Linked DNA regions of Homo sapiens: region 2 is linked to region 1. Evidence: fine-mapped expression QTL. A gene starts in region 1. The other region holds a variant in brackets. All regions are shown on one strand. Distances are from middle to middle. Region 1 holds the start of NECTIN3 (nectin cell adhesion molecule 3). Region 2 overlaps LOC105374039 (a long non-coding RNA gene).

What was found. PIP is the estimated chance that this variant, and not a neighbour inherited with it, causes the effect.
Region 2: its variant is fine-mapped to the expression of NECTIN3 in whole blood (TOPMed, PIP 0.97).

Annotation. Positions count from the first base shown.
Region 1 is chr3:111,059,407-111,074,823 of GRCh38, reverse strand. It overlaps NECTIN3 (nectin cell adhesion molecule 3), which reads right to left and starts at 3,008. Exons shown (of 6, transcript NM_015480.3): 1 at 2,647-3,008. The coding sequence starts at 2,806. It overlaps NECTIN3-AS1 (NECTIN3 antisense RNA 1), which reads left to right and starts at 4,865. Exons shown (of 4, transcript NR_045114.1): 1 at 4,865-5,034; 2 at 5,353-5,560. It overlaps LOC151760 (putative uncharacterized protein LOC151760), which reads left to right and starts at 3,058. Exons shown (of 4, transcript XR_007096272.1): 1 at 3,058-3,332; 2 at 5,353-5,560. RefSeq lists a silencer at 3,181-3,280.
Region 2 is chr3:111,525,091-111,540,507 of GRCh38, reverse strand. All of the region lies in intron 2 of LOC105374039 (a long non-coding RNA gene), which reads right to left. Among named protein-coding and RNA genes, the nearest start is that of CD96, 9.4 kb to the left of the region's middle. The variant TC/C (reference allele first, on the strand shown) is at 8,913.

The DNA.
Region 1 (15,417 bases):
CATCATAAAGAAACTTCGAATTTCATAATTAAATGACGTTTATCAAGTCAGATGATGACGTAAGCCCAGTCCCCTTGACACTTATACCTAGGAATCTCTTAGGCTTAAAAACAAAAAAAAAATCTGGCAATTTGACAACCTGTAAAACTCTCATTTTAAAAGTTCAGTTCTCCAAATAAGATAATGCACACCCCCAAAACAAACGGCCAGCAAGTCTGATATAAACATTTTTATAGCCTTCAGAATATCAGGTCCACCAGTTTTGATGGATATTTTTAACAGTTAAATTAACACGATAAAGTTAAGGCCACGCTATATATCAAACATATCAAAATATCAAAAATAGCAGCAAAAGGAAAAATCTATATGTCATAAAACAAGTAAAGCATTCTCATCAACAAATCATCAGCTACAGTCATATTTTTAAAGCTTAAAAATCTTTTCAACTCTAAAACTGGCTCCACGCAAATATTAATTACATGCCAAACCTTGTAAGCAGTACTATGAACATCATTATAACTCTATTAACTAAAACAGTAGTTAAATCAACAACTTGTTAGACTAACAGCTTACTTGAAGAAAATTTTGCTTCCATACCACTAAGCTTCCATAAGTCACAACATCTGTGCCCTATTCAAAGACTTAATTCCAAAATAAAGGTTGATGGAAAAAACTCGTCATAAAGGTTCACAAATTAGGGTGTTATAACACTATAAGCCAAAAAAGGAAGCTGTTTAAATGAGTAGCACACAGGAATACAAAACCAGTGTCTACCTCTACAACAAGAAGAGTTGACTCTAAACACTACACCTGCTCTAAAACACAGTCCATTTGCCTACACTGCTTAAGTTTTTAAGCTCTGAATTAAAAATCAAGTCCTTCCAATGCTACATTGAGATTTTTTAAAACTGTTTTCTTCTTCCATGTGAAAACCAATGTGTTCCTTCAAAAAGTAATCAACAATTCATTTTCACAACCACTAAGAAATTATCATGTAAATAATTCCTGCATCAGCTATGCATATTACCTGGCTTCAGTCTTCCACAGAGCTTTGCCTAACTAGATCTGCCTCTGTGGAGGTATAAATATTCTCTCAGTCCTTAACATAAACGAAGTCAGGATAGTAAACTGGTAAGGTCCCCTCCAACTGTCCTCTCACTCAACTGTAAGCAACATCCCCAATTCTCCTTCATGGAATAGAACAGCACACAAATTCAATCTAGACTCTGGCATCAATTTAAAAAGGTATAGCATTAAGAACTTTGTCTTGGAACCAAGTATCTGCGGAGTCGGCATACAGAAACAGCGTACAATTAATAACATTCCATTTACCATACTATACTCTGTGTAAATCAGATTTCATTACAGTGCTGGAAACGTGGTGGTAAACTGTCAGTGGAAATTCTCAGCCCAGAAGAGACACTCAATCCCATCATGCAAACTTTGCTTCCCTCATAACCAACTACCCTGACTCACCTACCATGTAACAGGATTCTCCTCCTTCTAAATCACACTATTCAAGAAATGTGCACACATCTCTCCTTTTAATAAATACTAGTAAAACTTCAGTTTACGGTTTTATGAAATACTGAAAACCAATCTTTGACCAAGCTTAAGTTCTGCCCCTCTACTTTTCTTACCAAGAGCCCTCAAATAAATAACTACTCGCAGTGTTCTGATACTCCTCCTCCCACCAAAGACTGGTGTCCTTATTTTCCCAAATCGCTGCCTCCCATTAATTACCACTTAAGTCCATTTCTCTTGCATGAGGCAGACTTTTTTTTTTTTTTTTTTTTTAGCACAGTCCTTAATAAGCAGGCTTCTAGTCTGGCATACCTGGGAAGAAAACTCAGAGACTAACTCCCAAATATGACAGGAAAACAGTAACATAACACGAGGGTCAAGAGATGGGAAACAGGCGCGTGACTGTTTTGGTTAGAACAGCCGGGGCACACAGTCCATGAAATCAGGTATTTAACACGTAAATCTTGTTCCTGCGGTTTGGTAAAATAAGCACGGGCAGTGTGAGAGACGTCCCACAAGCTGGAGGGCAGGGACGAGGGTCAATCTAGAGAGCTCCAGAAGCTGTCAGGGCAGAGCCGGGGGAGTGGGCACAAGACAGAAGAAAACTAGCTGTAGGGGATTCTGCGGCTGGGTGGGCTAAAATGGTGCCTTCTCCAGGGTGGAAGGCCATGAGAAGTGGACCCGGAGGCTTCATTCCATCGGGCTCCGGTCCCTAGGGTTTCTGGGCTCACAGCTCAAGTTTCACCGGGAAAAAAAGCGGCAAACGTGCATCCCGGCACCTTAACCTACGAGGGTTCCCAGAGAATGAGCGAGGAAGTAACGGTCCCCGGAGCAAACCCGGAGTTCGGCGCACGAAGCACCATCGCCAACCCTCGGCCATCCGCACGGCGACCCGCGCGGCCGCGGGGGAGGGCAGCGGGCCGCCGGCTCAGCATTCGCTGGCCTGGCCCTTCCAGGGCCTCGCCCCGGGCGCGGCGAAAAGTTTCCAGCCAAAGTCCTCGGCACTCGCTCGCACAACCAACCGCCTCGCTGCTCCAGAGAACGGCTGGCAGAGCCGGCCGCGGCGCCCGCACCCTCAGTGGCGGCTCCCTCAGCCCACGCCGGCCGCCGAGGTTCACCTACCACAGAGCCTGGAGAAGAGCAGCAGCGGGAAGAGCAGCAGCAGCAGCGGAGGTGGCGTCGGGGGCTGCAGCAGGAGCCCGGCTCCGAGGAGAGAAGCGGAGGAAAGTTGTGCTTTGCCGCCTCCAGGACACAGCGGGGACGGCCGCAGGGTCCGCGCCATCCCCCACCCTCCCCCCGGCCCGCTCGCCCGCCCGCCCCCCGGCTCCCCCGGCCCCGGCGCCTCAGGCTCTGGGCGGAGGCTGTGGAAGGTCCGGCGCGCGCGTCCCCAGCTCCCAGCTCTAGCGCCGTCGCTGCCGGCTGACACTTGGCCGAACGCTGGCGGCTGCCTCGACACCGCCGTCGCCGACGCCACTGCCGAGGCTGAAGCGGGAGCCGCCCGCCGCCGCCGCCACTCCCCTCCCCTCGGCACCCGCCCGCGTCGAACTCCTGGGAACTCGGAACGCACCACCCCGCCCCACGCAAGAGGGGGAAAAGAAACCGACTCTCAGAGCGGGCGCCCGACTCGCCCGCCCTCCCCGCGCAACTCCACCTCCCGTCTGATCCCCGGGCGCAAGCCCTGTCTCCTCCCACCCCGCCCTCCTACACATGCTCCTCCCCTTTCAAAAAAAAATATTCTTTTCATCCACTTTGATAACGGGGTTTCTCCCACAGCAGAGATTTAAAAGGGACAGGAAAATCTGGAATAGGTTAGTCGGCCCCGCCCCTCGTTCCTGCCTGGTTTCCCCCCTTCCCTGCCTTTCCAATGGTCTCGCCCACTCCACCCCTCGCGGGTCCACGGGGGCCCCGGCGCCGACTGAGGCGAGGGCTGCGGGACAATCACGCTCGGCCTTCTCCTCTCCCGGGCGGCGCTCTCCCTGTGGCGGGGACCTGGGACGAGGGGGTGGGGTGGGGAGGGGAAGGCAGGAGGGGGCTGCCCTTCCGTTGCCCATGCTAAAGGTTCCTGTGTAGGAAGCTGGACGCAGCCTGCTGGACTAGTAATCTTCCTCCTCGCTGGGGCGCGGGGCACTGAAGGGAGGGAGAGACTTTCTCCTCCTTCCTGTTCCCCGGGACAGCTGTGCTCTCCGAATCCTTCCCTTCTTCCCAGCCCACTTATTCCCCGCTCGCCAAGGCACGTTTGCACAGGCATTTTTCCTGCTCTTTTTTCTGGGAGGGCAGCTTGGTAGAATGGTCGGCGGAGCTGGGCGAGGAGAGGGGTCTTCAGAAGGTTTGCTTTCTTGCTCTTGCTTCTCACTGGCCGCTGGGCTGTCCACTTTCCGCGCCGGGCGACTGGCAACAGGAGGCCATGGATTTCCCCCAACGAGTGCGTTGGTGTTTTTCTTTGGTTTTGTTTCCTTTGCATGTTCGTATGTGTAGTTTTATTTTCTTGCCTGTTTTCGTTTGATGGCAGAGAGGCGACCTCGGGAAGTATTAAACATTTGCCCGTATAAGAAGAGCGTCTGTGGTCCACCATGACCCTCGCTCATCCCAGGTGGCTCTCCGCCCTGCCCTCTCCATCCTCCCGCCTCGCACAGTACCGGCAGCTTGACCTTGGAGCCACTGCCACATTGGTTCCGCGGGGGGAGTAGGAGGGTGGACAATTTGGACTGTCCAGCGTAGGGGGTGAATTGAAGGCAGAGGACACCAGTCCTCAGGCCTGACACTATTAATTTTATGTAGGTCCTGTCATCTCCACGAGATAGCCATAAATGTGTTCCAGTAACAGGAAAGCTGAACAAGGATCAGCCGCCCAGAAGTTAGCCTGTCGCAGCTAAACTAATGCATGCTTGCGGCCAAGACCACGCTGTCCTCGGCTTTCAGTCAATAGGGTCTTCCCACCTTCCGCCCGCTGGATTACAAGGCTTTACTAACCTCCAAGGCTACAAGCCATTCTACACCCTGCCCACCTCTTTTTTCTTTCTTAACTTCTGCCTCCCTTCCAGTCTCCCAGCGCTCGGTCTAGTGCCTTTTTCCCTCCAGCCCTTTCCTCTTCCCTCCCTCCCTGTGCCTGTCTGCCTCTGTCGTCCCCTGTAAGCTTGTCTCCTGCAGCCAAGGCTTTCTATCACCTATTCTCAAGATGCACTTATGAATAAACCTTGTCCTGCATCGCTCCGGGAGATCCCCTGATGATGATCATAATTGACAAAATGTAGCTATTGTGACATTCCTCAGCTGTGCTGACACCACCGTTTCCCTTGAGAAAATTTCTTTTTCTATATTCGCATTCCCTAAACCTAATTTCACTGCTAAATTTAGACAGCTCACTGCGCAGCCACTAGCTAATTATCTGTTTAGATAGCACTTTAACACGTTGTTGAGACTCAGTTAAATGTTAAACAACCAAAATTTTAATATCACTAGCCAATTTCATTCTTCCAGGTTTTCCCTGATGGCTCCACATCTCCAAGAAAAGTAATTTAGCCAACATTTCAAAAAATACCAAAGGCTTAACTTGGGTAGGGGCCATCGGGCAATTGCTACAGAGACCATAAGGAATTAGCAGGTTAAGTTCGTCTCAAAAAGATGACATGGAGCTTTAACAAATATATTTCCTCCATACTTACAGAAATTGAATAGTGGTCTGCTATGATATTCTCTGACCTAAAGTGAAGAGAGAGCATGGAAGAGCATTATTTATAGATGTTATATAAGCATTAAAAGAGCACCATGCTGGTGTTTTATGTGCATATATGTATTATATTCTAATAATAATAATTTGTGTTTATACAGCATCTTCAACTAAAGATGTCAAAGCACAAGCTCACTTCCCACGGAAGGTAGCAATTACTATTATCTACTTGACAGCTACAAGAACCTAGGCACAGAGGTTAAGTGCTCTGCAAATACTACCAGCCAGTGGTGGTTTTCCTGCCAGAACCAAGTTCTTGCCTTCCAGTGGACACCATTGATCTCTCAAGATGATTCTTTAAGTTAAAAAGTAAGATAACTCAAATTTCTACTTTCTATAATAAAAGTGCCCAATCTTAAATTACATTCTCCTCAGATGAGTGAATTTTAGACATACTCACCCCAAGCTTTCCTGTTGGAAATTTTTACTGGCCACAGAAAAAGATTTTACATTACATATACAACTCATGTTTTTCAAGGGCAGAAATACTATTAATTTTTTTAAAACCTTTAGCATGAGAGTATTAGTGCGTTCTATGCCATTTTTAGTCTTCTAACTTTATACATAAGTTCACATTTATTGTTTGAATAACAAACTGTTTAAGGAATACTTAATTATAGCTAACTTATTAATATTTCTGACACCATTGAATAACAAAGTATACATGCATTTTTTCAGAAAAAAATTATCTGAACAGAAAGCAATGTAATCCTAATGCCAACAATAGTTTCATTGTTTTGGGTTAAGAGTACTGATGGTGTCCATCCTACTTTCGGCTCAAAGATTGTTTGCCAATTATCAAGGTTCATTAACTCTTAACTAAAAAACAAAGGTTGACATCTTAACAAAGAAGTAATTATGTACAGTGCTGGGCATTTTACATTTACTCAAATAATCCAAGTGAAAAGTTTGAGACTATTATTAGAATTTCATAGCTGACTCTGAAACAAAGGAGGTATTTTACAGGAGAGGTAAGACATTATATACTTCAGCTAATTCTTCTTAACATCAGCAAATTCTATAACCTGCTGTGTGAGGACGCATAGCTTTTCCTTTAGTAAAAGAGATGAATGATATTTTGTAGAATATTTGAACTTTGTACTATATTTGATAATAAGCTTATGTTATCCAGTTAGGATCACAGTTTTTGTAAAGAGAATTATGCAAATAATAAAAAACAAACTGCAAAATCGCAGAAAAGTCCATCCACTTGCAAAACGTTCACCAACCTTACTCTTATTAAATGCAAGTCTTTCTTACTGAACAGATCTTCCCTGTATGCTCATATGACTTTCTCCCTCCTATTTCCTTTGAATCTTTGATAAAATTTAACTTTATCATTGAGGCTCTCCAGGACCACATCATATGAAAGAGCTTCCCCCACCCTAATCCCTATGCCCTTAACTTGCTTTATTTTCTCCATTGCCCTTACCATCTGACATGTCTCTAATTTACTGTCTGTTCCCTTTCACTAGAATGAACAGTCCACAAGGGCAAGCAAGTATCTATATTTTCACTGTTAAAACTCAAGTAGGCCAGGCACAGTGCCTCCTGCCTGAAATCCCACCACTTTGGGAGGCCAAGGCTGGCAGATTGCTTGGGTCCAGGAGTTCAAGACGAGCCTGGCAACATGGCTGTGTTAGTCTGTTCTCATGCTGCTAATAACGACATACTTGAGATTGTGTAATTTATAAAGGAAAGAGGTTTAATTGACTCACAGTTCCACATGGCTTGGGAGGCCTTAATCATGGAAGAAGGCAAGGAGGAGCAAAGTGGTGGCAGGCAAGAGAACATGTCCAGGAAAACTCCCCTTTATAAAACCATCAGATCTCATGAGACTTATTCACTATCAGGAGAACAGCACAGGAAAGACCTGCCCCCATGATTCGATCACCTTCCACTAGGTCCCTTCCACAACACGTGGGAATTGTGGGAGCTACAATTAAAGATGAGATTTGGGTGGGTACACAGCCAAACCATATCAATAGCAAAACCTCCTTTCTCCTATAAATACAAAAAAAAAAAAATTAGCCGGGTGTAGTGATGTGCTCTTGTAGTCCCAGCTACTTTGAAGGCTGAGGTACGAGAATCAGCTGAGCCCAGGAGGTCGAGGCTGCAGTGAGCCAAGATTGCATCCCTGTACTCTAGCCTAGGCAGCTGGAGAAAGACCCTGTCCCCCAAAAAAAACCAAAACCAGAACAAAACAAAACAAAAACCCCAAGTACCTAGAATAATGTCTGCCATATAGATTCCAAACTGGATGATTAAATGATTATTATGACATAGCATACTCAAGTGCATGTCTCATTCAGTAGAGGTTTATACTTCTTTAAGGTCTTGAACAATAGGATTGATCATGTATAGTTTTTTTAAGCTGGAAGGTGGTTACTCTGACCATTGCTTAACACTCTTGATATAATTGTTATTAGTGCTGTTTATTAAACTATTATCTCTCCACTCTGTATTCATAGTTCTGCCCTGGTTTTGTAAGGCTGGTGCTAGGACTCTGCAAACTGTGTATCTCCTTTACCGACTGGCTTCCTGACGGGTTCTATCAATAGAGGTCACTGGAGGAAATGTGGACCCCTGGAGTAAGAGAAAAGGGACTTGTTCCTTTCCATTTGCTTCTTGCTATCAGCATCACCTCAGTGGTAATAACCTGTCATCCTGTCTTTAGCAGCTGATTCCAGCCTCCCACTTCTTTTACACTCTAAGTCCCAGAGTCCTCATGACTCCTCAAAAGTACCAGCACCAACTAGGCTGTTTCTACTTCTCAGAGGTCCAAGCCCCAGCTAAGGAGGATGGCTCCTCTAAACTTCTGAGTTCTAATAACACAAACCTTCCCCTTTGTCCTTCTAGTTCTAAGGGTAGTAACAGCTTCCCACAGCTTATATCTCTAGGTCACCACAGTGCTTCCCTTTTTGATCTAGAGAACCATCCCCCCATCCCTGTGTAACATTTTCATAATATTCCCTTGGTTACATAGTATAGTTTCTGTATTCCTGATTGGACCTCAACTTATTTTTCAGTGACTATTTCCCAAAATCTTCTCTTGTAACAGTTACTTTTTTCTAAGATGAGCTTCTTAAAATCACAGAGCCAACATAACTCCATCAATTAATGTAAATAAAAACAAGGCAAATGAACAAAATTTATTCTTTCATTGGCAGTAATCCAGGTTAGCAGAGATGGGTTGGAAATAAGTAAATTTGGAGGTAATTATGTTGTCATTTCAGCAATATATACATATGCTATGTATTTTTGTTGTTGCTCCTCATCCAGGTCATGGTAAAACAAACATAAATTTCTCATTTTTAGATGGTTTAGGTGATTTTTTTATGAACTTAGCACTTGAGAATTATGAAATTAAAAACGAAAGGAATATACAATTTGATAGAAAAAAGAAGACCTTGTGTTTGATAGGTCACTAGGGTGACTATAGTTTACTATAATCTATTAGGTATTTCAAAATAGCTAGAAGAGAATAATTCAACTGTTTCTAGCAGAAAGAAAAAACAAATATTTAAAGTGATGGATATCCCAATTATACTGATTTTATCTTTACAAATTACATGAATGTGTTGTCACATGTACCCCCCCAAAATATGTACATCTATTATGTATCAGTACAAACAGATGAAATTTTAAAAATTATTTGAGAAAAGATTATTTGGACTTTTAAACTTACAATGAAAACAAACTTACGTTTTACATAACTATCTAAAGGTTAACTCTATTCATAGTATACAACTCCTGTAGAGGTGCTGGTGTTCCAAAAAATATAGTTCGAGAAACTGATATGCAGGCAGAAAGAAGAGCTATACTATATCATTATGGTAGGTAGGTTAAATAATAGGGTAGGTAGCTTTAATAAAGATGATTAAACTACTATATACTGGAGTCTGTGTTAGGTACTGGACATAGAAAACCCCAAGTCCTGACTCCAAATAGTAATAACAATATTCTTGCAAACATTGGAGGGATGTACAGTATGTGAGAGAGCAGAGGAGGACTCTCAGGTCTGCCTAAAAGAGACTGGGAATCCTTCACAGCACAGATAATATTTGAACAGTCTTAAAGAATGACTAGAAATTTTACATATGGATGGAGGAAAAGCAGCAGAGGGAATAGGAGAATGATAGATGGAAAGTTACAGAGGCATGACCAAGTACGATGTGTTCTGTAACCCACAAGCATGCCTGTGCTGCTAGAGAGTACCACACAAAGGGGAATTGGGAGATAAGGTAAAAATGAAGTTAGATGGGTAGGTAGGGATTGCTTGTACCTTGTAAGGGGCTTTGGATTTTTATCTGGTCGATCATAAGGACAAATGAATTTTGAGTAGGGGAATGACAAGATTAGATTTGCTGGAAAAGTCAGAGAAAAATGTGAAGACGGATATATTGTCGGGGGATTTGGGAGAATTATAAGTACGAGTTTAGTAAAAAAAAACTTGTTGTAAGGAGCAGAGTGAATGAAGGTCGGAACTTTCATTCATGGATGAAATAAAGTGGTAAAGCAGATGGAAAGGAGAAAATGAATTCAGGGGAATTTTAGTATTTTAAAATAAAATAGTTTATTTCCAGAGTGGGTTGAATATATGGTGTGGCTAGCTAGGAGGTAATAATCTAGACAACTGAGAGAAACAAAAAACAAAAGGCATGAGAGCAAAGTGATGAAAAAAAAGCACTCAAAGAAGGTAATGAAAATATGGGTAGAGGCAGAGAGATACTAGAAGACAGAACATAGAGAAGAAAATAGGGGTGGAAAAACCAAATGACAAAGGTTTACAATAATGCAATTGATGATTTTACAAATTATTGAGCAAAATTTTAGGGCAGATTTTATCATTTACTTCCGCTAAATATTGTTCCTTGGAGTCTCATGTCTGAGTTAACCAGCTTTATGTAATGTCCAGTGCAGTTTATTTTAACATTGTCAATAACCAAAAAATATTTGTTGAAGAGAGGAAGAGAGGGAAAAGAAAAGAGTAGATGGTTTTGCTGTTGTATTTAGATTGAACTGAACTAAAGAAGTCTGGTGTCTGTGTAGGTTCAGTACAGTAAAAAGCCACTTCTTCCCCCATGGGTATTTCAAAAGATCCTGCCCTAATTAATCACCTAAAGCATTGTTTCTAACTTGTACCCTTTCATATCTAACCCAAAGCGGATATTCATCAGACGCGCCATGCCCCCCAACCCAGAGAGACACACAGAAGGAGTATAATGTAATGGTAAAACCCCTGGATCCGCATTGCCTGGGTTTCAGTTCAAATCCTCATCTTGTAACCCTGGGCAAGTTACTATCTTACTTTCCTCATGTGAAAATAGGGAAAATGGTTATTTCTTCCTCACCATATTTCAGGAGAAAGTTAGTTCATATAATTAGTTTAAAAGGGGCCTAATATATAAAGCCCAAGAAATGTTAGGTGTGGTAGTAGTTTTATTATCAGTAATATTAATATTAGTATTTTATTATACTTCTGAAACAGGGTCTTGCTCTGTCACCCAGGCTGGAGTGCAGTGACACCATCATAGCTCACTGCAGCCTCGACTTCCCCAACTCAAATGATCCTCCCACTTCAGCTTCCCAAGTAGCTGGGACTAGCAGCATGTACCACCATACCTGCTGATTTTTAATTTTTGTAGAGATGGGGGGGGGGTCTCACTATGTTACCCAAGCTGTATTAGTATTTTAAACATACGTTTAGAAATTGCATATCAATCATAGCAGCCCGGGAGTGGAATTTTGATTAGGCTCATGTTGCCAACAATCCAATTGAAATCTCAAAACCAATTCTGATAAACTCTGACTTACATTAACCAGATTGTGTTAATTCAGCATCATTCTTTTTTGTTTACAAACCTCTGCAGTTTACCTCCTGAATAACACTCCCCAAGAGGTCTACATTTTAATCCCCCAAACCTGTGAACAATATATGGCAAAAGGGGATTAAGTTTGCAGATAGAATTAAGATTACCAATCAGCTGACCTTAAAAATAGGGAGATTATCCTGGATTATCCAGTTGGGCACAATGTAATCACAAGGGTCCTTAAAAGTCAGAGGAAGGTAGAAGACAAGAGTAAAAGAGATGTGACCACAGAAGAATGGTCAGTAAGACACAGGTTACTGGCTTTGAAGATAGAGGAAGGGAACAGTGAAGCAAGTAATATGGCAATATCTAGAAGATTGAAAAGGCAGGCTGGGCGCAGTGCCTCCTATCTGTAATCTTAGCATGTCGGAAGGTCAGAGTGGGAGTCCAGGAGTTTGAGACCAGCCTGGGCAACATAACAAGACCCCGTCTCTACAAAAAATTTTAAAAAGTAGGTGAACATGGTGGTGCACACCTGTGGTCCCAGCTACTCTGGAGGCTGAGGTAGAAAGATCACTTGAGCCTGGGAGTTTGAGGTTGCAGTGAGCTGAGATCTCGCCATTGCACCTCAGCCTGGACAACAGACGAAGACTCCATCTCAAAAAAAAAAAAAACTAGTAAAGACACATCTTCCCCTTAGAGCCTCCAGAAAGGAATACAACCCTGCCCATACCTTGATTTCGGCCAGTGATATCTGTGTTAGACTCCTAACCAACAGAACTATAAGATAATAAATTTGTGTTGTAAGCCATTGGATCTGTGGTAATGTTATAGCAGCAGTAGAAAACCAATCCATCCCCCAATCCCCTTACCTTAACTTCTTTGACCAACACTCAAGAACCTTAACATAAAACTCAGTTTATTTATTTTTATTATTACACTTTAAGTTTAATACACGTACAGAACGTGCACGTTGGTTACATAGGTTACATAGGTAACATGGTTACACGTGCCATGGTGGTTTGCTGCACCCATCAACCTGTCATCTACATTAGGTATTTCTCCTAATGCTATCCTTCCCCTGGCCCCCCATAACATGTCAGGCCCCAGTGTTTGATGTTCCCCTGCCTGTGCCCATATGTTCTCATTGTTCAGCTCCCACTTATGAGTGAGAACATGCAGTGTTCGGTTTTCTGTTCCTATGTTAGTTTGCTGAGAATGATGGTTTCCAGCTTCATCCATGTCCCTGCAGAGGACATGAACTCATTCTTTTTTATGGCTGCATAGTATTTTATGGTGTGTATGTGCTACAGTTTGTTTATCCAGTCTATCATTGATGGGCATTTGGCTTGGTTCCAAGTCTTTGCTATTGTGAATAGTGCTGCAATAAACATACATGTGCATGTGTCTTTGTAGTAGAATGATTTATAATTTTTGGGGCGTATACCCAGTAATGGGATTGCTGGGTCAAATGGTATTTCTAGTTCTAGATCCTTGAGGAATCACCACACTGTTTTCCACAACAGTTAAACAAATTTACACTCCCACCAAGAGTGTAAAAGTGGTCCTAGTTCTCCACATCCTCTCCAGCATCTGTTGTTTCCTGACATTTTAATGATCGCTATTCTAACAGGCATGAGATGGTATCTCATTGTGGTTTTGATGTTCATTTCTCTAATGACCAGTGATGATGAGCTTGTTTTCACATGTTTATTGGCTGCATAAATGTCTTCTTTTGAAAAGTGTCTGCTCATATCCTTCACCCACTTTTTGATGGGCTTCTTTGTTTTTCTTTTCAATTTGTTTACGTTCCTAGTAGATTCATGATATTAGCCCTTTGTCAGATGAATATATTGCAAAATTTTTCTCCCATTCTGTAGGTTGCCTGTTCAATCTGATGATGGTTTCTATTACTGTGCAGAAGCTGTTTAGTTTAATTAGATCCCATTTGTCAATTTTGGCTTTTGTTGCAATTGCTTTTGGTGTTTTATTCATGAAGTCTTTGCCCATGCCTGTGTCCTGAATGGTATTGCCTAAGTTTTCTTCGAGGATTTTTATGGTTTTAGGTCTTACATTTAAATCTTTAACCCATCGTGAGTTAATTTTTGTGTATGGTGTAAGGAAGGAGTCCAGTTTCAGTTTTCTGCATACGGCTAGCCAGTTTTCCCAACACCATTTATTAAATAGGGAATCCTTTCCCCATTGCTTGTTTTTGTCACGTTTGTCAAAGATCAGATGGTTGTAGATGTGTGGTGTTATTTCTGAGGCCTCTATTCTGTTCCATTGGCCTGTATATCTGTTTTGGTACCAGTACCATGCTCTTTTGGTTACTGTAGCCTTGTAGTGTAGTTTGAAGCCAGGTAGCATGATGACTCCAGCTTTGTTCTTTTTGCTTAAGATTGTCTTGGGTATATGGGCTCTTTTTGGATTTCGTATGAAATTTAAAGTAGTTTTTTCTAATTCTGTGAAGAAAGTCAATGGTAGCTTGATGGGAATAGCATTGAATGTATAAATTACTTTGGGCAGTATGGCCATTTTCATTATATTGATTCTTCCTACCCATGAGCATGGAATGTTTTCCCATTTGTTTGTGTCCTCTCTTACTTCCTTGAGCAGTGGTTTGTAGTTCTCCTAGAAGAGGTCCCTCATATCCCTTGTAAGTTGTATTCCTAGGTATTTTATTCTCTTTGTAGCAGTTGTTAATGGGAGTTCACTCATGATTTGGCTCTCTGTCTATTATTGCTGTATATGAATGCTTGTGATTTTTGCACGTTGATTTTGTATCCTGAGATTTTGCTGAAGTTGCTTATTAGCTTAAGGAGTTTTTGGGCTGAGATGATGAGGTTTTCTAAATATACAATCATGTCATCTGCAAACAGAGACAAATTGACTTCCTCTCTTCCTGTTTGAATACTCTTGATTTCTTTCTCTTGCCTGATTATCCTGGCCAGATCTTTCAATCTTTGTTGAATACAAGTGGTGAGAGAGGGCATCCTTGTCTTCTGCCGGTTTTCAAAGGGAATGCTTCCAGCTTTTGCCTATTCGGTATGATATTGGCTGTGAGTTTGTCATAAATAGTTCTTATTATTTTGAGGTACAGTCCATCATTACCTAGTTTATTGAGTGTTTTTAGCATGAAGAGTGTTGAATTTTATCCAAGGCCTTTTCTGCATCTATTGAGATAATCATGTGGTTTTTGTCATTGGTTCTATTTATGATGGATTCTGTATATTGATTTGCCTATGTTGAACCAGCCTTGCATCCCAGGGATGAAGCCAACTTGATTGTGGTGGATAAGCTTTATAATGTGCTGCTGGTTTCGGTTTGCCAGAATTTTATTGAGTATTATCACATAGATGTTCATCAGGGATAGTGGCCTGAAATTTTCTTTTTTGGTTGTGTCTCTGCCAGGTTTTGGTATCAGGATGATGCTGGCCTCATAAAATGAGTCAGGGAGGAGTCCCTCTTTTTCTTTTGTCTGGAATAGTTTCAGAAGGAAGTGTATCAGCTCTTCTTTGTACCTCTGGTATAATTCGGCTATGAATCCTTCTGGTCCTGGGCTTTTTTAGGTTGGGAGGCTATTAAGTACTGCCTCAATTTCAGAACTTGTTACTGGTCTATTCATGGATTTGACTTCTTCCTGATTTAGTCTTGGGAGGGTGTGTTTGTCCACACATTTATCAATTTCTTCTAGATTTTCTAGTTTATTAGCATAGAGGTGCTTATTAGTATTCTCTGATGGTAGTTTCTATTTCTGTGGGATCCACAGTGATATCCCCTTGATCATTTTTTATTGTGTCTATTTGATTCTTCTCTCTTTCCTTCTTTATTCTTTTGGCTAGTGTTCTATCTATTTTGTTAATCTTTTCGAAAAACCAACTTCTAGATTCATTGATTTTTTTTTTGAAGAGTTTTTGTGTCTCTATCTCCTTCAGTTTGGCTCTAATCTTAGTTATTTCTTGTCTTCTGCTAGCTTTTGAATTTGTTGGCTCTTGCTTCTCTAGTTCTTATAATTGTGATGTTAGGGTGTCAGTTTTAGATCTTTCCTGCTTTGTGATGTGGGCATTTAGTGCTATAAATTTCCCTCTAAACACTGCTTTAGCTGTGTCCCAGAGATTCTGGCACATTGTGTCGTTGTTCTCGTTGGTTTCAAAGAGCTTATTTATTTCTGCCTTCATTTGCTTATTTACCCAGTAGTCATTCAGGAGCAGGTTGTTAAGTTTCCATGTAGTTGTGTGGTTTTGAGTGGGTTTCTTAATCCTGAGTTATAATTTGATTGCACTGTGGTCTGAGAGACTGTTATGGTTTTCATTATTTTGCATTTGCTAAGGAGTGTTTTACTTCCAATTATGT
Region 2 (15,417 bases), 470 kb before region 1:
TGGAGATGCACTATGAAGATCCTGATTTGCACGTTGGTGTCCCTATTAAATCAGGACACATTACAAGCCTGGAGAAGGGATTCTATGATCTCGTTCCATTTTTCATATTAAGAGGAATTTACCTAAGTAGAAACCAATTCAAATATACATTTATTGAATTCTCTAAGAACAATACCCTCTTTGGGGTATTTAGACTTCTCCTATCTTTTATTGTATTAAAGTGAAACAGTTGTTCCAAAAAAGTCTGTAAACTCAGAAACATGGAAATGGTCGTTTATTTTCCAGTGCTACAGACTTACTTTCAGTAGAATTCTTGCCTCTCATTGGGGTTGGGCTACCTGAGCCATGCATTTAGTGGCTATACGGCAAATCTGTCTTCTGTGTATTGTTCAGGGCTTAGTTAATGATTCTTATATCTAGAAACTTCTATGGCCTGAAGCCATCAGATTTGATTAATTTTTCTTTGGGATCCACACAGGTTCTGAAAGTATAACAATTTCAGATGCATGGCCACAGAATATTAACTGAACGCTTACACTTCGGGTGTCCTGCAGCTGCAAGACCCAGGCAACAGCCCCTCCATGGCTGTTTGCATGCAGCAGGTGGCAGCAACACTCCGCAGACTGGCACGGCTATCCCAGGTGATGGGAATTGCCCCCACCGCCTTTCAATCCTGGTAATATTTTCTAAAGGCTCTTTCAGCATGGGGATAGACAGGCGTTCTCTATACTTAAAAATAACTCTTCTATGGAAGTCATGTCAATCTCTTCTATTATCCTCCCTACCCACCATATCCCGATTGCACAGGGTTTCTTCTGCCTTATAGTCTGCTGCACATAAGGAGAAAACAGAAGCAAGTCAGTTTCACACACAAAAAGAAATCGTGATCTTCTTGAACTGCAGAGGCAAATTCAATTATTTACAAAGAGAAGCAGGAACACACATTATTTCTGCTAAAGGCAAGCCATGATTGTGTGTTTTGGACAAACTTTTTAAATGCTCTAGCTAAACACACTCAGTGAGAAAAGGACATTTTCAGAAACAGGAAGTTGAGCAAAAGGTAAACTTACTTTTGTGGTTTTCATAATGGTTAACTCAAATATTACTTACTTATCTTTAAACACTTACTAAAAATAAAAATGGGAGTGCTATACTTTTGCATGTTTTCCAAAATGCTTAGAAAACATGATGGTTAAGGTTTCAGTTAATTAAAAAATACTTGCTGTATGTCAATTCTTAAGAGATTACTGAAGAGGCATAGTTCTAGATAATTTTAAAATACCAAAGATAAAACACAACCCTCAGTTTTAAGGCAGTTACCATTTAGCTGGGAGGAAGCATCCATGTGCACCAAAAAAGTCAAGCAGCATAAAGCACAGCCCAAATGAGAAGGTAGGGCAGGATTTTAGCAAAGGGGGAGTTATCTTAGGGGTAGAGTGGGCCAAGAGCATATGAAGTATGGAATCTAAACTTGGCCCTATAGGCGTCAGACTGGTAGAAACCGCAAGCTAAGTCATTCCAGGCAGAAGAAACAGGAAGAGCCAACACTTGACAGTGTTGAAGTTCAAGGCCATTTAGTGAGTGGGCTATTCCGGTTTAGCAGAGGCTGTATTAGGGGACTTGGAGCAGACAAAGCTGTCCAAGAGCTTTGAATTCTAGGCTAAAGGGTGTGGGTTTTTTCCTCATGTCAGAGAGACTCCCTAAAGATATTTCAGCATATGAGTCATATATTTAAAGTAACATTTTAAAAGGATAAATTGGGTGGGCGTGTGTGAAATGAATGGAAGAAAGGAGAACAGAGAAACAGAAGACTTGTTAGGAGTTTATGTTTCTTTGGGCACTTTAGGATGAGAATGGGCTGACTGGCATGGCGAAGCATGATGAAAGCAAGGTCATTACCAATAAAGAGGCTGTAAGGTGAGATGTACGATTGGGCATGGAATCAAAATATCCTATAAAGTTTCATGCCTCAGAATTAGGAAAAAGGGAAAACAAACAGAGTTGGATTCTTGCTGGAAGAACCACCCTAATCAAGGAGCAGTTATTAAATGATCAATAGATTTTTGATGGATGTGAAAGATAACCTATTATGGCACAGCTAGCAGTCCTGCCTTCATCAGAGTAGAGTTCTTTTGGTTTTCACTCAAATTTTATGAGTTTTATGAGTTAGCATGTAATGAAAAAGAATTTCATGAGACTTTCAGCATAGCAATCTGTTTTATCACCATTTTCACCATGCCGAATTCCATCCATGAAAGACTAATTTTAGTTTAATACTTCTTTTTCAGTTACAACATCAATATCTGCTCATTACATGAAACCATTTTAAATGGATAAGAAAGAAAATTTAAATGGATAAGAAAGAATTCTAACTGCCCAAAGACTACCAAGACCTATATGGTGTATATTTGTCTAGATTTCTTCATAAACATGTACATATAAAGAAAATGAATTTTTACCACATGCATGTTAAAAATTCATTTTATAGATGTACAAAAAATAATTTTAGGTAAGATATATATAAAATTTCCACCTGGCATTTTACTTTCAGAAATAAAATTATATAATTCAATTAGATAATTATAATAAGTAATCTTTGAATATTTATTTTGAGTAGCAAACTGAAACAAGGAGAGAGAGAGAGAGATGGAGAAAGAGACAGAGACAGAGATATTTTGAAATTGCCAAAGCCCTGGCAATTTAATAACTCAGTAATCAAAATGTTGATTTTTTCAGAAATACATTGAAGAAACCATTAATATTTCCAAGGTTAAGTTAGCATAGCCAGAATTAGAAGAAATATTTTAAGTTCTACATTCTACCTGGCTTCAAAACATTAAAATTTATTAAAATGTCTCTTCATAGTCAATGAAGAAAGAAAGAACACCTTGAAAAATGAGAAGGGTTGCAATTGATTTTATAGCTTAAAAATAGATAGTGTGGAGCAAAATCATATACTGTGGTTCTTTGATAGACTGCTACAATAATATTCTTAATCACATTGTATTTTTACAACTATAGTTCACATAGAAACTGTCGTGTTTCTGTACTTGGTGAAAACAATAGACTAGGTAAGGTCAACCAAGGACTGAATCACCCCTCTGTTCCCTGTTATTTCCCCCAGTAATTTCCTTTTAAATGGAGTCCTGCATTTGAGGACAAGAGTGAAAGAAATAGGGCATGCAGAAGTGCAAGAGAGGGAGGGAGACAGAGAGAGAGAGAGAGAGAGACAGAGAGACAGAGAGACAGAGAGAGGACAGAAAGCACACTTTTGTATTTGTTGCTTTGAGTAATGGTATAGCTCAATAAAACCTCAATTAAGTAATGTTATCAGGGAATAGGAGATTGCGATTAATAGCATTTCCTGGGCAAATGAGAGCCAAACCAAATTCTTTTCTTGGAAGAGGAGGGGTAGTACTGGGGAGGAGAAGTAAGTAGGATAGAAATTAGTCCTTGTTGGTGAACATCTTTTAAAAATGCATTGTTTCACATTTCTGGCTCAATGAAAACCTTATCATGAATATAATTTTATTTCAAGATTGGAGATCTTACAGAGACCAGGGACTTTGTTCTGAACCACAGTCCCCAGAAAGTAATCATAACAAACAAGAAGACAGTTGTGCATAAAAATATGCTCTCTCCTTCAGAAAAGAAGTCTAACTTTGTAAAGATTTGCCTGTTTTGTGAAAGTGTTAAAAGCAGAGGCATGAGCATGCTTGCACACATAGGTTTTCTATTTCCTACCAAAACCTACAGAATGTTGGAGTTAGAAGAAACTGTATTGGTCATTTAGCATAGACTGAGCCCTTTATTTTACAGATGAAATAAATGACACCCGAAGAGGTAAAATGTCCTGCCCAAGATCAAAGTGTCTCTTATAAAAAATCCTGTGCTAGTTACGATGAGTCTTTTACACCATTAATACATTGAGCTTCATAACATATTCAATAATAAAAACCAATTATTCTTCAATTTAAAATGCAAATTGCCTCTAATATCTTGACAAATAAGAAGCAATCCAAAAAGCGTACATTTTTTTTCATTCCCATGACATTTCTATTGACAAAACTACACCTGTATGTCACAGAGGAAAAAATAAGGATTTATATATATTCAACTATACATACACACACAATAAATAGATTTTTATCTCAAACAATTATATATATATATTTTTGAGAAGTTTTTGTTTGTTCTCTTGCTTGCTTTTAAATTTAATTTCCTGGAGAAATTCTGACTGACTCTGGGTGAAACCAAGCATGCTATTTTTTAATTAAAGGTATTGAATTAGCTTCATTCCAGTGTTATATAACTCAGCATCAATTTTACTTTATTTTCACTGTTCTTTAGCCATTTATTATTCCCTTTGGTTTTGCTCAGGGAAGATACTATGGGTCTCATATTTACATCTCCAAACTCTCTTTCTCTTTTGAGCCTCTCCTCTATCTCCAATATACATGACTGTAACTTAATGGGGAAGCTTCTCTAATAACCCAGCACATAGTGAGGAAGGCCACATTTCCAGGGGTGCTAGAGGAGGATGGAGAAAAACTATAGAAAACGCTCCGTGTGGAGGTTTCTTTTAAGCAAGCTGAAGATCCTCAAAGCTCTTTTTTTCTAAAATAATAGTATGTCTTATTGCTTCAGAGAAAGTTAGAATCTACTTGGAATTAATAGTATTTTATCAGTTTCACACTTTAGCCATGTAGACCCATAGAAACTCAGGAGAATCAACTCCCTTATTTTATAAATCAAGACCTGGTGCCCAACAGTGGGAAATGCATCCTGAAGTCATAGTTATGTATATTTAAAGTATTGAAGTGGTTGGCTTTATCTTGACCTTTTTTTTCATACAGAAATGAACATTAATCAGATCATGAGTGTTACTACTTACATGATCATGAATAAAAGTCCACAAAATGAGGTCGAAATTTGGGTGTTGGCTGTTAACTAGGCTCACTCTCCTGCAGAGTGATTCACAGCACACATAATTCAGATGTATCACTTGGTAAAATAAAATATCAAAGAACAATGTGTCAGGGACCATGACAGTTACCTGTGAGAGATGAACACTTCAAATATCAACTCTGTAAATGTCCAAGTTCCCCTTTTCTTATGTCTCTAGGGCATACGCATGCTTGACCACAGCTAATGGCCCTAAAGGCCCCACGAGCTCCTGGCTACCTCTCCTCCCTCCTTCACCCCATGCTCCTTCACGTATCACAACCCTCCTACTCTTTCCTTTCTGTCCCTCAAGCTCTCTGTGTCCTTCCAACCTCGGGGCCTTTGCATTTGCCCTGCTTGGAAAACTCTTCCACAGGCTACATACATGAATATTTTCTCTCATTCTGTGGTTGTTCAAATGTCCTCACCTCAAAGAGGCCTTTCCTGAATTTCATGGCTATCTAAAGGAGCCCTGTCATGGGCCTCTGTCACAGCAACAACTGTGTTTTTTTCACAGGGCTTATTTGCATGAGACATTAAGTTGATTATTTATTTATTTGTTTTTTTGGTATATTGTCACTTTCCACTAGAGCGTTTGCCTGGGAAGGACAGGAGCTTTATGTATTAGTCACTTCTTGACTCACCAAACATTTTTGCAACCCACCATTAAAGTTAGGAAAAGATCAACGTGGTTTTCCTACTCCCTTGCAGTCACTCAGCACTTCACTTCTGACACCAGCTGTCTGGCGGTTTTCCCTCACACACCAAGCAGTTTTTCAGTTTTCTAGTCGACACCAACTGGATGTCCTATAATTTTATTCTGACACATATCTACCCAGATATAGTGTCAGATCTCACAGATTGAGGGCTTAGTCCCAAAAGACTGTCTCTCACTTCAGATGTCAGTTACAAGTCCCAGCTTGTGACCTGTGCTCCTGATTGACTGGCTATAATTCAGGGTTCCCATGACCCCCTTCTCAGGTTCAACTAATTTGCTAGGGTGGCTCACGGAACTCAGGGAAACAGTTCACTTATGTTTACCCATGTAAATAATGTTATAAAAGATGAAGATGACCAGCAGATGGAAAAGATGCATAAGGCAAGGTATGTGGAAGGGTGCAGGGCTTCTGCGCCGTCTCCAGGTGCTCTTCTCTCCCAGCACCTCCACCTGTTCAGCAATACGGAAGCTCCCCAAGCCCAGTCCTTTTGTGTTCATGGAGGCTTTATTACATAGGCATAATTGATTAAATTATTGGCCATTGGTGATCAGCTCAACCTTCAGGCCCCCTCCCCTCCTCAGAGGTCAGGGTGTGGGGCTGAAAGTTTCAACCTTCTAATCACATGGTTGGTTCCCCTGGTAACCAGCCTCCCATCCTGAGGCTATCCCAGAGGCCCCAGTCATCAGTCATCTTGCTAGCATACACAAAGACATCTATCACTTAAGAGGTTCCAAGAGTTTCAGGGGTTGTGTGCCAGGAACCGGGGACAGAGACCAAATACATAATTCTTATTACATCACAATATCACACCCACCTTTTCATTCCAGCTGTCATGGGTCCAACAGGCTGCTCAAATGTAAGCCTGAAAGCACCTCTCCTCAGCTGCCCTAAATATCTCTTACTTTCTGACCTGGGCATCTCTGCCTCCTCAGCAAGGGAAGGGGGATAGGTGGGGGTGGAGGCCTCATTCCACTCATCCATGCATACACATGCGTGACCTTGGAAGTGCAGGGAGTCAACACCTCATCGGGCAACCTTTGATCAATGGGGAACAGGAGCTTGTGTTGCTCAGGTGAAAGATTCTAAGATGCGTTCTACACAGATCCTAAGAAAGTGCCCAGAGGGACCCAGACAACAGTGGACCATAGTGTAAGCTGCTTGATATTGCACCCTTGCATTGACTTGCCCTCCTTCCCTGTTTCACTCTTTTTCACCCCCACTCCTGTTCCATGCGATTACATCCCAAAGTAACTGTAGGCAGGCCCTTGTCTCAGGCTGTGCTTTTGTGGAGAATGCATGCTAAGGCTGTCTGATTACTCCACTGCTATATTTCTAGCCCCGAGAATGGTATTGAGCACATAATAGACACTATATGAATATTTTTTGATGAAACTCTTGAGTAAGTAAATCCATTTCCCATCAATAGAAATAATACAGCATACACATTTCACAAGGTCCACAAAATTGAAATAAACTAGTCAGAGTTCTAAAAATAAGATATATTCTTAATTTTGCTGAGTGTCTCAACAAATACTGAGCTCCACTTAAATGTCTGGCACTAGGATTGATCTGTACAGGAGACAAAGATAAATAATATCTCTTCTCCCATGATATTATCTCAGCGTTATCAAGAAGAGGGATGCCCAGAGTAGCTATGAGCAGTTCAAGGAGCCCATTAGATCTGCCACCAATTATCACCCGTAGGTCTCCTGTGGAGTATGTGAGATGAAGGAAATTAGCAGCACATAAAAAAGCAGACCATATTTGCCCTGCCAGAGAGAATATAAATCTTAAGACATTTTGTGACTGGCTTTCCAAGTGCTCAAATCAACTGTAGAAAATAGAGAAATTCTTGTTACCTAAGGGATGGAATTCAATAGCAGTACTTAAGATAGATAAAAATAAGGATGACAAACCTATCTCTACCAATGACAAGATTCTTTTTTTTGAAAGCCAGAGGGTTAAGGGATCTAATGCTATAACTATGGGAAAATGAGTATTATAAAATCCAGGTCTCTTACATATAGGCACATAATATTACAAAATCTCAGAAAAGCTGCAATACAACTTTTGCTGTCACTAGTGGCTTAGCATTGACTGAAGTCATTGCTCCCTGGGAGCTAAATTACCCCAGAGTTGACAAGCCAGTCTAGTCTCAGTAGAAAACAGAAGGCACATTCAAAAGTGATAATTGAATAGAGTTTAATATAGGGGCTATATATAAAGATGTAGTAGGGCTTAGGGGAGACCAGGGGTAGCATAGTTCTTAGGGGCTAGCAACATTGGGAAGCCACTTTCTTTCCTATGACTGCAGGGAAATGGGAGACAGCCATGAGAGAGGGTAGCTGCAGGGAGAGAGCCTCCCAACAGGAACTGTGGCCTTCATCATGGATGTGTAGCCAAGCCTTGGCAACCCCTCAGTTAGAAACCTAGGGATATAAGTATCTCGATGCCACTCTCCCTCCTATTGAGGGTTTTAAGAATACAAATTTTATGTAACGATTAAATGGTATAAGATGTTGTATTAGTTTTCTAGGACTGCTGTCACAAACTACCACAAACTTGGTGGCTTAAAATCAAAGAAATTCAGTTTCTTACAAATATGAAGACTAGAGGTCCAAAATCAAGGTGTTAGCAGGGCTATGCTTCCTCCAAAGGCTCTAGGGGACAAACTGTTCCTTGACTCTTCCAGCTTCTGGGGCTGTGAGCTTCATTCCAGTTATTTCAGTCTTCTCATGGCCTTCTCCTCCTTTCCCTGTGTCATCTCCTCTTCTGTTTCTTATAAGGACATTAGTCATTGGATTTAAGGCCCACCCCATTAATTCAGGAGGATCTCTTCTTGAGATCCTTAATTTAATTACATCTGCAAAAATCCTTTTTCCAAATTAGATCATATTTACAGGTGCTTTTCACATATATCTTGAGGGGTCACCATTAATCCCACTAAAGATATAATGAAGTAAAATATTTTCAGCAAATTAAGCATGCTATCAACACTGAGAAAACTGGAGGCGTGTAGTGGATACTGTGGTGCACTGTCCCATTTCCCCGTTCACGACTGAAGCACTAATTTTTTCTGCTGCTGGGAGTGTTGCCTGCTGATGGCTCATAGCTGCATCACTTTCCAAGAATTTCCTTAATCTAAAGAAAGCTGCCTCTCTAAGTTTTTGCTTTCTCCCTGGGAACAGCCCACTGGTAATGAGTGGATAATGAAGGAGGATGCACAAAGGTCTGGCTTTGTGCCTCAAT[TC/C]TTGATAACTCTAAAGGGACATCCCAGCTCTAGAGCTGTCTTGTGGGAAGGGCTGAGGCTTCTGTTGCAACTTCGTTGGAAGGCAGCTTCTCCTTCCATCCCCTCTTGCTTCCCTCACTCCCTTGTAGGTGTTGTTCTCAAGAGCACTTCTTGATAAAGCTTTTGTAGGCAAATTTCACCACAGTGTCTGTTTTCCAGGGGCCTTGATTTAAGACATACTCCCACATGAGATGAACCATCAATAGTCTAAGTAGCTCAGAAGGAGGCTTTTTGGAGAACCATCCTCCCAATGCCTAAACAAAAGAAGTTTTATGCTCCATTGTGTGGGCTCTCTGTCTTACTATTGCCCCTGTGATAAGAAACATGAGGTAAGAAGTTAAACACAAAAACTAGAAGAATGAAAACCTTTTCAAAATAGAAGTAATATTTTTCAAGAATTGGACAGAAGTCTAAGTGGATGGTTAGTGGGTATTGAGAAATTAAATCAAGATCTTATCATATCATAGAAGATTTGAGAATATATTTTTAAACAGAAAATGAAAGCCAAAAGTCCTGGATATTGAGAACAGAAATTAAGAAAAAATATCTAAGTGTGGCTAGAGAAAAAGGAACATGTGCTAAAAGTAAAAAAGTAATGAATCCATAGCAATCCTGGGATGGCACAAGTTTCCCACAGTGTTGAATCCTCTCTTTTGACAGTAGAGACAAGCAGTGTGGAGTCTTCCTCCTCAGTGATTTGCACCAACAGCCAACCTTTCAACAGGTGTGGTTTCTCGGTACTGACCTCTAAGCTGCAGAGACTAAGCAGCATCCAGCCTGGCCTCCAGACACTTCCTGTCTATACCCCCAGTAGAAGTAATTGATAGAAAGGCATCAAAATCCTCTCCACTGGGGCTTGTTTTGCCATGTCAGAATCCAAAATCATTTTTGAAAATCACACCTAAGACTTTACAGAGAGAGATATATATATATACATATATATACACATGTGTATATACATGTATAACCTGTGCTAATTTGGGCTGTTCAGCACAGAGAAAATCTTGTACAGAACATGGATCCAAGGCATATCAGATATACTTTGGTTCTTGGCTCTGCCACTTTCTAGCTGTGGCCTTACACAGAAGCTATATCGGGGGAACCTGCCCCCAATATTTAAATGTAGGTTCTTTCTATTTTCCGTAAGTGTCAGCTGGCTGAGAAATAAAGAGAAAGAGTACAAAGAGAGGAATTTTACAGCTGGGCTGCTGGGGGTGACATCACATATCGGTAGGACCATGATGCCCACCTGAGCCTCAAAACCAGCAGGTTTTTATTAAGGATTTCAAAAGGGGAGGGGATGTATGAACAGGGAGGAGGTCACAAAGATCACATGCTTCAAAGGGCAAAAAGCAGAACAAAGATCACTTGCTTCTGAGGAAACAGGACAAAGGGCAAAAGGCAGAACTTCTGATAAGGGTCTATGTTCAGTGATGCACATATTGTCTTGATAAACATCTTAACAGAAAACAGGGTTCGAGAGCAGAGAACCAGTCTGATCAAAAATTTACCAGGATGGAGTTTCCCAATCCTAGTAAGCCTGAGGGTACTGCAGGAGACCAGAGCGTATCTCAGTCCTTATCTCAACCACATAGGACAGACATTCCCAGAGTGGCCGTTTATAGACCTCCCTCCAGGAATGAATTCCTTTCCCAGGGTATTAATATCAATATTCCTTGCTAGGAAAAGAATTTAGCGATATCTTCCCTACTTGCATGTCCGTTTATAGGCTCTCTGCAAGAAGAAAAATATGGCTCTTTTTGCCTGACCCCACAGGTAGTCAGACCTTATGGTTGCCTTCCCTTGCTCCCTAAAAATTGCTGTTATTCTGTTCTTTTTCAAGGTGCACTGATTTCATATTGTTCAAATACACATGTTTTACCATGAATTTGTACAGTTAACACAATTATCATAGTAGTCCTGAGGTGATGTACATCCTCAGCTTACGAAGATAACAGGATTAAGAGATTAAAGTAAAACAGGTGTAAGAAATTATAAAAGTATTATTTGGGAACTGATAAATGTCCATGAAATCTTCACAATTTATGTTCCTCTGCCGCAGCTCCAGCTGTTCCCTCCATTCGGGGTCCCTGACTTCTCGCAACTTCTCTCCCTTTCTTTTTATATAAATGTGCCATGGTGATGAAGGCTTGTTCGTTCTCTTGGTTTTGACACAGGATTCTTTGACTGGTCTGGCACACTAAAAACAAGCTGATTAAACAGGGAAACCTAATCCCAAAATTTACTACAGTGGAGCCCCCAATAGACTTAATCCAAATTGTGGGATTTAGTCCAGAAAGACTTTCTGCCACCTGATCTAACGCCTCAGCTCCAGGCACAATGGATAAATGAGCTTGAGAGACTTCAAAAATTTGTTTCTTTAGTTTAGTTATGTCCAAGGATAAATTATCTTCCCTACCCAGAAGGTGTCCTTTGACCATTTCCCATGAATGATCAGTCTCATTGTAGGAATATGGTGTGATACAGAAATCAGAAGTATTCTAATCGCACTGCATTTGCATGTGATGTTCGAGACTCATAAGCCGATCCCCAAGCCAAATAACAGACTGTCTTAAATCATTAATTTGATTAGCTAATATTTGATCGATGCCTTGTTGAGAATTCCACATTTGGGTGGAACTGGCTTGCCAATCATTAGCAAAATGAGCCATTTGAATAGATTGGTGTAATGCCACTCTGGCAGTGGTGGCCAGTGCAGTGACTGTAATTAGGCCCATGATCACAGCAATTACAGTGAAAACAAATCTCTTAGATCTTTTGAGAATTCGTTGTAACACTTCATTAATTAAATGTACTGAGGGGGAAGATTCCCAAGGTCTGGGTAAAGTTACTGGTATCTAGATTCCTTCTTGAGTTTGAACCAACATTACACTTTTCCTGAAGTCAAAATGGGAATGAACACAAGTGTATAAATGACAATTATTGCATTGGACAGTTTGACTGTTTGTCCAAATTTTGATATTTCCCATTAACAGCATGTAAGGAGGCTTAACACAACTCTGTATAGGAATAGTCAGGTTGGAGGTAAACAAAGCAGAATGTTTGAATCTATGTCGATACTGAGGGAGAGGAGTGGTGGTGGCAATGCCCGATGTTCTCCGCTGTAAAGAAGCAATCTGAGGTGCCCAGGGATGCTGAAGAGGTGGAGGGGTATACCCGGGTTGAGAAGAATTATTATTATGCCAATTGGAGTCCCATAAAGTAGGATCAGCATCAAAAAGAGGAAAAGGGTTCAAAGGGGATTTACCATGGGGTTCAGAATCACGGATGCAAGGGGCGGTAGTGGGGACAACAGACAGAAAAGTTTCCCCCTCCCATACTCAGAGTCTGGACATGACAATAGCCAATTTCCTATGTTCTGGGTGTTCTGGGCTCAGAATGGGGAATATCATATGAGGCCTCAGGTGGGGGGTAATGCCCTTATATTCCCATTTTAAGGGAAAGAATGAGCTGAACCTCCTACGCAAAGTAGGATGATGATCCTCGCCCTCCCAATAAGAAATAAAATAAGTACCCTCCAGGCATTCCCTTCTGCCAGAGGAGTAATTGTTTTTTAAATAGCCCTTTGGTGCCCAGCCTATTACTAAACCATATGGGTTTTTTTTAATACTGCTGCATGTGAGTTAACACAGTCTTCCCAAATTAAAGTTTTAGATGGGCCCTCAAAATTTTTAGGACATGGTTTTCCTACAGGTTTATATTGAAAGTATGGGGTATCTCCTATTACTCCCCTTTTTATTTGTCTTAAAGGAGAAAGGGAGAGGCCGGAGACCAAATGTCCTCCTTCCCTTGTAGCTAATCTCTCTGGAAGATAAGCAGACCAGACTTGAGTTTCTAGATGGATACAACCAGGTGCATGTCCGAGGCACAGAGGACGGTATTTATAACCCATAGTAACATTAAATGCAATGCCCTCTTCTCCTGGTTGAGCAGGGCAACGGTCATCTCTAGCTCCAGGCATCCACACACGATCGTTAGTATAGATTTCCTCAGGAGCATCCATCCAGGTGAAAGTTCGAATAAGTGGAGGAAAAGGCACATAAGCCCAATAAGAATAATTTTGTGTAGCAGGTAAATCAGTTTGAGGGGAAACTGGTGAGACAGAAAGTATAAGGAGGAGAATTATTAAATAAAACCAATTTAAGCAAGGTCCAGTGCTGAAGGAAGAAGAGAAGAACAGAGGGTTGTTATTTTCAGACTAATAGAAATGGCGAGATTTTTAGGTTCATAAGGAGAAAAAGAAAGGGAATTAGGAGAAGTGGGATTAGTTAGAGGGGTCTCCATTGCCATTAGGGAGGATTAAACCAGACCCATTTTGATTTGGCATGCCAGTTTCTGCAGAGTCGGCACAGATCTCACCAGGTATGATGGCGGTCTCTGACGCAGATGTCTTTTCCTTGTGGTTTTCATTGTCAGTATTTACAGGAAGTTTAAGTCTTCTAGTGGGCACCCAGACAGGGGATTGATGATCTCCAGGTGAAACACAAGCATACCCTCGTCCCCACATTAAAATTGTTCCAGGTTCCCAGGTATTGGTCTGGGAGTTTTTCCATAATACTGGCTTGCTTCCATTTAGGGAGAATTTTTTCCCTGTATAATGGCGTTCAGCTGCAGTCAGAGTATTGTCTTTAGGAACATTTAGAAAGTTTAAAGTAAACAATGCTAAATGTAATTGGGAGTGGGGAGTGGTTACATTATGCTTTTGTTGCTCAGACTGTTTGGACAATGGAGTTTTGAAAGTGCGATTGGCCCATTCCACCACAGCCTGTCTCTGAGGAAGTACTTTCTATTCATAATGAGCTGCAGGCTCCTGATTATTGATAATGGTACAGTAAAAGCAAATTTTTCACAATCCGATTTATGTAAAACAATATGAAAGAAACAGTCTTTAAGGTCAATCACTATGAGAGGCCAATTTTTAGGTATTAAAGCAGGGGCAGGCACGCCGGGTTGGACAGGTCCCATAGGTTTAATTACAGCATTAATGGCCCTTAAATCAGTTACCATCCTCCGCTCACCTGAATTTTTTTTTTTTTTTTTTTTTTTTTTTACTGGAAACACAGGAGAATTCCAGGACAAAAGAGACGGTTCCACATTTCCAACTTATAACTGTTCAGAAACCAATTGAGTTAAAGCCTCCAGTTTTTCTTTAGAGAGCAGCCACTGCTGAATCCAAACAGGTGTTTCAGATTTCCATTACAAAGTTACAGGATTAGGAGGCATGGCAGTGGCCGTCATTAAAAGGGATAACCTAAACCAGCCCTGTCTTCTTTTACAGTAACTTGAAGAGGTTTAGTAATTCCTTCATGTCTTGGACCGAGACCAAGTCTGGGAACAAACCCCATGTTTTCCATTATATGTTGACTGGGAACACTATAAGAGTTACATGGAATATTAATTTCAGCCCCCCACTGCGCCAGCAAATCTCTACCCCAAATATTAATGGGGGTTGGTGTGATATAAGGCTGAATTGTACCCTTTTGACCATCAGCACCAGTGCAAGGCAAGATAAATGTGCTCTGGTGAAATTCATCAGCTTTTCCAACACCTACTAGTCCCATGTTAGCGGGATGTTTAAGCCAGGAGGAAGGCCATAAATTAGAGGAAATAATAGAAACATCAGCCCCAGTATCTACTAGGCCGTCAAACTTTTTTCCTTGAATGTGTATGGTGCAGGTGGGCTGTTGTTTAGAAATTACATTAATCCTATAAGCAGCTTTTTCACTGCCGGAGCCCATCGCAGGGCCCCATGTCTTATCTCCTTTGTTTAAAATAATATTAGGTAGTAAAAGTAATTGAGCAATTGACTCACCGGCCAAAATGGAAACAGGAACTTTGGCAGACACCATAAGTTTAATCTCATCAGAGGAATCAGAATTAATGAGACCAGTATGAACTATGATACCGTCAGCAGAGGTGGATGCCCTGCCTAACACCAGGCCCACTGAACCTTGAGGTAAAGGGCCAATAACCCCCGTGGGGACAATTAAAGGGAAAGAATTAGGTAGTAAATTTAGAGGACTGGTACTACAGAGATCGACCGCCCTGCCCCCTACTGTGGAGTTCTAATATTCCCTTTTTAGGAAACCAAGGACAGTGTTCTTCCACCGCCCTGAATAGGGTGACCATATTTTCTATGGGCACTCAAACTCCTCCCTGTTTTAACAGGAATTTAATATAGCAGAGATAAGCATAATGTTTAGACTCCATGTGACCCATAGTTACCCTGGACAATACACAGACAACTCACCAATCATCAGGGAGCTGAACAAGCATTTCTGTGTGCCAGCCCAATGAAAATTTCTCCACACCTACCAAAGGGAATTGGGTTCCCACATGCACTTAGGAAAAAGAAAACCACATTGGTGTGCCAGATATCAGGGGAACCTGCCCCCAGTATTTAAACGTAGGTGCTTTCTATATTCCATAAGTGTCGGCTGGCTG